Homo sapiens: one gene and its partner. The protein of the gene in region 1 purifies or fractionates together with the protein of each later gene. This does not show direct contact. Each region holds a gene or a part of one and is shown on either strand. Other genes may lie near its edges.

The links. The genes of interacting proteins can lie anywhere in the genome.
Region 2: the proteins of TEX264 (region 1) and MINK1 purify together in Homo sapiens (affinity purification with mass spectrometry; 3 studies listed by BioGRID and IntAct, with this or other methods). This does not show direct contact.

Annotation. Positions count from the first base shown.
Region 1 is NC_000003.12:51,674,232-51,677,977, forward strand, and holds part of TEX264 (testis-expressed protein 264), read left to right. Parts: intron 1-39; coding exon of another isoform or gene 40-73; coding exon 74-331; intron 332-3,746. UniProt on the Homo sapiens protein: Major reticulophagy (also called ER-phagy) receptor that acts independently of other candidate reticulophagy receptors to remodel subdomains of the endoplasmic reticulum into autophagosomes upon nutrient stress, which then fuse with lysosomes for endoplasmic reticulum turnover.
Region 2 is NC_000017.11:4,885,324-4,889,069, forward strand, and holds part of MINK1 (misshapen-like kinase 1), read left to right. Parts: intron 1-159; coding exon 160-290; intron 291-587; coding exon 588-642; intron 643-796; coding exon 797-875; intron 876-1,127; coding exon 1,128-1,303; intron 1,304-1,786; coding exon 1,787-1,856; intron 1,857-2,256; coding exon 2,257-2,467; intron 2,468-3,746. UniProt on the Homo sapiens protein: Serine/threonine kinase which acts as a negative regulator of Ras-related Rap2-mediated signal transduction to control neuronal structure and AMPA receptor trafficking.

The DNA.
Region 1 (3,746 bases):
TAGGCTACCAGCCTCCTCTCCCTTCTTTCTCCTTTGCAGCTGCCTTGAGGTGCAGTGTTGGGGATCCAGAGCCATGTCGGACCTGCTACTACTGGGCCTGATTGGGGGCCTGACTCTCTTACTGCTGCTGACGCTGCTGGCCTTTGCCGGGTACTCAGGGCTACTGGCTGGGGTGGAAGTGAGTGCTGGGTCACCCCCCATCCGCAACGTCACTGTGGCCTACAAGTTCCACATGGGGCTCTATGGTGAGACTGGGCGGCTTTTCACTGAGAGCTGCAGCATCTCTCCCAAGCTCCGCTCCATCGCTGTCTACTATGACAACCCCCACATGGTAAGGAGTCTCCATGGGGTTCTGCCCCATGGATGGGCCTGGTGGGCCAGGGCTTCTTTGGGGAGGGTAGTTTTGGTTGCTGAGGAAAGGGTGGGAGAATCTTCAAGCTGGCCCTGCAGACCCCTCCTCTATGAGCTTGAAGCACCTTCCAGATTTAGCCTGGACTTCTGCTCCCGGCATCCATTTGTGGGCTTTCTATTTGCCCAGGTCTGGTTCCCCTTGCCCATGGCTACTTGTGGATTTCCAAATGCAGTGGACTATACCACCATGAATCCCTGGCTTCTGCCAGGACTTTGGTCCCCTGCCTCCTCTTCTTGTCATCCCTCCTTCCATCTCCATTTGGGGCCAGTGCTCTAAGGCCAGGCCATTCAGATTCTGCCCACTCTTTGGGGTTACATCTTGCTGTTTCTGTGCTTTCCATCCCTCAGCTCTTCTGCCATAGTTGTAGGCCCTTGAGGGCTGAGAGGGCAGTCCCTGGGGATGGGGCTTGGAATCTTACCTCTTCAGCCATTCTGATGCCCCTCAACCTGGTGATATGGCATTTCCTTAGACCTCAAGCTGGTGCTGGGAGATGGCCAAGGGGGCTAGTGGAGCCAGATGAGTTACTTAGAATGTTCAGAATGCTGAAGTCAAAAACTAATCCAGCATCACTAGCACCCTGTGAGCGTCTGGCTGTTCTTACAACCTATGGTGAGTCAGAGCTTGCTAATGTAACCTACTGCTATGCTATGGGGTGGTGCTGCCCACAGCTGGATGGGCTGGCAGCTCTGTCAAGGGTTCTTCAGCCTCTACTACTAAGCCATGCCAAACCAAGCATTTGGAATCCCCAGCTCTGATTTCCTTGCCTGGAGAGCTCAAGTGCACAAGTCCTGCAGTCTACCCAATGTGTGCTGACCGGCTTACTGGGGCACTAGTTGAAACAGGATGTACTGGTTCCCTCTCTGTGCCAGGTTCTACTCTACACCTACACTCTGGAGATGAATCAGACCTGGCTCTGCCCTCAGGAAGCTCTGTGTGGCTGACATGTCAGCCCCACATAAGTGATTCTCCAACAAGACACTGTGCTTGATGTCCACAGAACTTTGAGCTGTAGGTTCAGGGAGGCTGCCATGAGTCTGCTGGGGAGGCTCAGAGAAGGGGTAGATTTCAGCTGGGCCTTCTCATGTAAGTAGAATTTTGCTTTGTTGGGAAGGGGTACTTGGCTAAGAAAACTGTGACAGCAAGAGCCTGAAGACATGGGATGACCAGAGAATTGTGGTTAGTAGACATGTCTTGGGTGGAGAAAGGTGGAAGGGTTTGCCCAGCCAGGTGGTGGGGAAGTACAGCAGGTTGAGAAGAAGGATGTGGCACAATTTGCCACCTTTGTTTTAGGAAGTTAGCTGAAGGGCAGGTGGAGGAGGGAAGGAGATGAGGCAGGAGGCCGTAGAAGAGATTGGGCTGGGTCCAGGTGAGAGGCGACATGGGTTGGTTGAGGTTTTGCAGTCACATGGCCAGGAGATGGCACTAACTGAAGTTGGGAGCACTGGAGCCTGAGTGGGATGGGACAGACAGTGGGCTATGGGGAGCTCCTAGAGCAGATGTGTGACCCTCACCCCTTCAAGGGCTCCGTTGTGTAAGGCCCTGCCCCCCCTTCCACACCTGGCCCAGTCAGAGCCTTCTGCAAGAAGAGTCCTTGCAGCTGGCTGTCTTCTCATTGGCGTGTCTGCCTGTTCTGGAATCAACAGGTTGCCTCTTGGGTTGGAGGTGCTAATTCCTGGATGGGAAAGGGCTAAGGCAGCAGGGTACCCTGGGGTCAGTGCTGGAGGCTGGTCTAGGGAAGAGTGAGATGGAAGAAGCCTGGCATGGGATATTCTGGCCTGGCCACTGCCTCCTGCAGCTTTCCCAGAGATGTGGTGGACCCCATGGGGTGGGCCCTGGGTCTCCAGGGTTGGTTGGTCATAGTCTGACTAGGGTGCTTGTCTGGGGGACTGTGGCCTGAGAGCACAGCCTTGAGGCTAGCAGTCCCGAGTTCTGATTCTGTCCCATCACTGTCCTGCTGAGTGATCTTAGGCATATCCCATAATGTTTCTGAGCCTCTATTTCCTTGTCTGCAGAGTAATGATAAAATACCTGCTTCATAGTAGACTGAGAAGAGTTAAGTGATATAGGTGAGGCATTTACCCCAGCACTTAGCCCTCAACAGATGCTTAACAACAACAAAGATGGGTGGGAAAACCACTTGTGCTAACATATGCTGAGAGGTCAGACTGAGCAAACCTAGACCCTTGGCCTGGCTGTGGTCATTTGGGTGGCACAGAGGATGATGAACAAGTCAAGGTGGCCCTTCTGACCCTGCCCATCCCAGTCCTGGGTCAGTCCAGAAGACACCTGTGTCCCCATTTAGAGCTAGGTCACACTTGGCACCTGGGATGGCTCAGGGACACTTGGGTCCCCATTTACTCTTGGAGCTGGTCAGTGCATTCTCTGCCTGACAGAGATTGTAACAGGTTCAGGGAACCATGGACCCCCAGGCTTCAGGTGCTCGTGGCTATCACAGACTGGTCCGGAAGGACCTGAGGCCTCCTGGTCCACACTCCATATTATGGAGGGAGAAACAGATTCAGATAGTAGGAGAAAGGCACTGATCTCATATGTTTTTGTTTTCATTTAACAAATATCTGAGCACCTGCTCTGTACCAGGCTCTGTGTTGGGCACTAGGGTACCATGGGGACCAGGACCTGCCAGTGTGTGGGTGTTAGGAGCCTAGAGGAAAGGCCCCATCCTGGTCCTGGAGTGGGCTGAGAACCAAAGGTTTTTGTCCCCTAGGCTGCCTCCACCAGCAGTGTGCAGCGTGGCATGCTCTGGTTCTCAGAGAAAGAGAATAGAGGCTGACCTGTTCAGTGTCCCACCCCCACTGTGTCCTTCCCTAGCCCAGAGTGACAGGAGCCAGAACCTGCTTCTCTGTGAGTGTGGGGAGGCAGTGAGGCTGTGTCAGGCTCTGTGAGTGGGGTGGTGAGTAACCAGGTGAGAGGTGCCACCTGGCTTTAGATGCTGCCCACCCCATGAGGTGTGACGGACAGCTCCCTAGCCATGCCTCGTCCTGTCCTCAGCTGGGCAGGGAGTAGGCTGGTCCCACCTAGGCTGGGTGTGGACCCAGGAAGTAGCACAAGAAAGGGTACCACTAAGATTGGACAGTGGCAGTTGGTGTGGACCTGTTCATAGTAGCTGCTGCTGGAGCTGTTAGCCTTGTGCCCTGGAGTCCTGTATGGGAAGAGGCTGCAGGTCTGGGTGAGTGGTTCTTGTGAGGCAGGAGGAAGGATTCCATTCTCCATCCCTGAAACCCTTGGCATGGTTGGGAATGGGAAGGTGGGGAAGAAGTCTTTTGGGAAGTGGACAGACCCTGGCAGGGGCTCATGGGTGTACTCACCCACCTCA
Region 2 (3,746 bases), on another chromosome or scaffold:
TTCTTCAGGATGGTGGTGGGGTAAAGGAGGGTGCTGGGGTGTCTGGGTCGGGCCAGGACCACAGCTGGCTCAGGCAAGTCCTGTGTGTGCACGCAGGGATGTGAGGCAAGGGAGCAGAGGTGACTCCCCACACTGACCCCTCCCTCTGTGTCTTCACAGTGGATTTTGGGGTGAGTGCTCAGCTGGACCGCACCGTGGGCAGACGGAACACTTTCATTGGGACTCCCTACTGGATGGCTCCAGAGGTCATCGCCTGTGATGAGAACCCTGATGCCACCTATGATTACAGGGTATGGAGTGGAAAGTTGGGAGCATGGGGGCTGCCAAGGGCGGGAAGCAATATGGGGACCACGGGGCCTGAGCAGGCTGGGGAACAGAGGAAGGTCAGATGATGTTAGCAGTGAGGGGCTGGGGAACATCTTACGGCAAGGCAAGTGTGGGTGGGAAGATGGGATGGGTTGGAAGGCACTGCTGCAGGAATGGGTGTGGCCCAGGAAGGCTCCTGAGAGGCCAGGATGGTGGGTGAAGAGAGGTTGCAGGGCAGAGTTGTCAGGAATATTCACTTGTTCCTTCTTTCCCGTCTATAGAGTGATATTTGGTCTCTAGGAATCACAGCCATCGAGATGGCAGAGGGAGCCCCCCGTAAGTTCTGAGTCTGCCGGGAGTGGGAGGGGAGGGAAAGGAAGGGCCCAGAGAGTGGCTGTAGGGAGGAGGTGGGTCCTGGGACCCTGCCGAGGAAGGGTCCTGTAGCTCCCAGTGCAGTGAAAGGGACTGAGGGTGTCTCCTCTGTGTCCAGCTCTGTGTGACATGCACCCCATGCGAGCCCTCTTCCTCATTCCTCGGAACCCTCCGCCCAGGCTCAAGTCCAAGAAGTGGTAGGTCTCTGAGAGTGTGGGCTCTGGGAAGGAAGGTCCCTGGACAAGGCCATCCCCACCTTCATGCCCTCTGTGCTCAGGCTTGGATCTCACCAGAGAAGAGATTCTGGGGGGCAGAGGGCGGTGACTGGTGTTGGGATATGAAGACAGGAGGGACGTCAAGGTGGCTTGTGGATGAATGATCCACCCTCTTCCTCCTGCACCCATCCCTTCTGAGGGGACCCTCCCAGTGTGAGCCACCACTGTTTCCAGGTCTAAGAAGTTCATTGACTTCATTGACACATGTCTCATCAAGACTTACCTGAGCCGCCCACCCACGGAGCAGCTACTGAAGTTTCCCTTCATCCGGGACCAGCCCACGGAGCGGCAGGTCCGCATCCAGCTTAAGGACCACATTGACCGATCCCGGAAGAAGCGGGGTGAGAAAGGTCAGTGGGCAGGCTGGAGGGGGCAGGTACTAGGGGACACTCCAGCCTGGCTCCTCTCTGCCAGCCCTGCTCGCTCCTGGCACCCCTTCCTGCTCCCCTCCTTGGCCCCAGCTCTCCCTGTCCAAGGAGATCGTTCTCAAACTTGCAACCCCCAAGGGGTTTTCCCTCCTTTCCCTCCCAGTCTGAATCAGCCTTCCAAAGGAGGACCGGCCTTTCGCATCCTTACAAAAACTCCATGCTAAGCACATGTGTGTGCGAGCACAAGCACAGGCTCTGCCACACCTCAGCTGCCCTGGGACCCAGTCCCGGTCCTGTCCAGGCCCACACCTGAGACCCGCTGTCCTCCCATTGCCCCCAGGAAGTGGGTGGGGCCCCTCATGCTTGCCCAGCCAGAGAGACCTGGTTATCCCCACCCAAGGTTTCCCTAGCCCACGGCGGGTCTGGGGCGCTGGGTGAGATAACTGCAGTGGCCTCCCCCTGCAGAGGAGACAGAATATGAGTACAGCGGCAGCGAGGAGGAAGATGACAGCCATGGAGAGGAAGGAGAGCCAAGGTAGGCCTGGCAGGTGGAGTGGGGGTTGGGGCGGTCATCGCTGAGTGGGGGGACTACAGTGGTGCTTGGCTTTGGGGACTCTCAGCCTGGGGGTGGTGGGCACAGAGAGGTAGAGACTCCTGGAAACCAAATTTCTGAGTGCTAAGAAGTGGAACCAATGACTGAGCAAGAGCTGGGGAGAGAGCAATTTGTGGTGAATGTGGGGCGCAGCAGTAATAGGAAAGGAGGACAGGACTGAAGACTGGGCAGAAGGGGACGGTAAGTCTCCTGGCCACCTGGGAGTGGCCAGAGGCAGAGGCTTTGATCCAGTTAAAGCACCCACTCAGGCGGGCCCACGGGGTTGAGAGTGGGAACCAACAGGGTTCTGACCCCAGTGCTTCTTTGTGCCACCCCTGCCCAGCTCCATCATGAACGTGCCTGGAGAGTCGACTCTACGCCGGGAGTTTCTCCGGCTCCAGCAGGAAAATAAGAGCAACTCAGAGGCTTTAAAACAGCAGCAGCAGCTGCAGCAGCAGCAGCAGCGAGACCCCGAGGCACACATCAAACACCTGCTGCACCAGCGGCAGCGGCGCATAGAGGAGCAGAAGGAGGAGCGGCGCCGCGTGGAGGAGGTGGGCTGTCTCCGAAGGGCCCAGGCCTGGCGCGGCCTCCTCCTGACCTGCCCCGGGTCCATTAGGGCCTTGGAGAACAGGTTTTAAAATGCCTTAAATGAATGGCATTTCTGTTGAAACAATTATATGATTTCAAATTTCATGATGAGCTGGACTTAACACAAAATGTAATCCCATCACTTTGGGAGGCTGAGGTGGGTAGATCACCTGAGGTCAGGAGTTTGAGACCAGCCTGGCCAACATGGTGAAACCCCATCTCTACTAATAATACAAAAATTAGCCAGGTGTGGTGGCGCATGCCTGTAATCCCAGCTACTCCGGAGGCTGAGGCAGGAGAATTGCTTGAACCCGGGAGGCGGAGGTTGCAGTGAGCAGAGATCACACCACTGCACTCCAGCCTGGGTGACAGAGCAAGACTCCGTCTCTAATAATAATAAGCAATAACCCGCAGCACCCACACTGTCCACCTGCTACCTCCAAAGTAGGCCCTCTCATTGTTGAACAAAAAATAATTTGCAAGAAAACCTGCTACAGAAGAGCCTTGTGCAGTTTTGAAAATATAGGCCAGGTGAGGTGGCTCACGCCTGTAATCCCAGCACTTTGGGAGTCGGAGGATGGGGGCGGATCGTGAGATCAGGAGTTCGAGACCAGCCTGTCTAATATGGTGAAACCCCATCTCTACTAAAAATACACAAATTAGCCAGGCGTGGTGGTGCACGCGCCTATAGTTCCAGCTACTTAGGAGGCTGAGGCAGGAGAATCGCTTGAACCTGGGAGGTGGAAGTTGTAGTGAGCTGAGATCACGCCACTGGCCTGGGGAACAGAGCAAGACTCCGTCTCCAAAAAATAAAAAAATAAAATAAATATAGCGTTCAGATAGTATAGTAACAAAGTCCTATCTTTTTTTTTTTTTTTTTTTTGAGATGGAGTTTTGCTCTTGTTGCCCAGGGTGACGAGTGCAGTGGCGCACTCTAGGCTCACCGCAAAACCTCCGTCTCCCAGGTTCAAGTGATTCTCCTGCCTCAGCCTCCTGAGGAGCTGGGATTACAGGAATGCGCCACCACGCCCGGCTAATTTTGTATTTTTTTCAGTAGAGACAGGGTTTCTGCATGTTGGTCAGGCTGGTCTCGAACTCCCGACCTCAGGTGATCCACCTGCCTCGGCCTCCCAAAGTGCTGGGATTACAGGTGTGAGCCACCGCGCCCAGCCACAGAGTCCTATCTAACAAGGTGTTACCTGGAGAAGGCCTGCTGGCAACTTCATTGCAGAAGTAGGCACA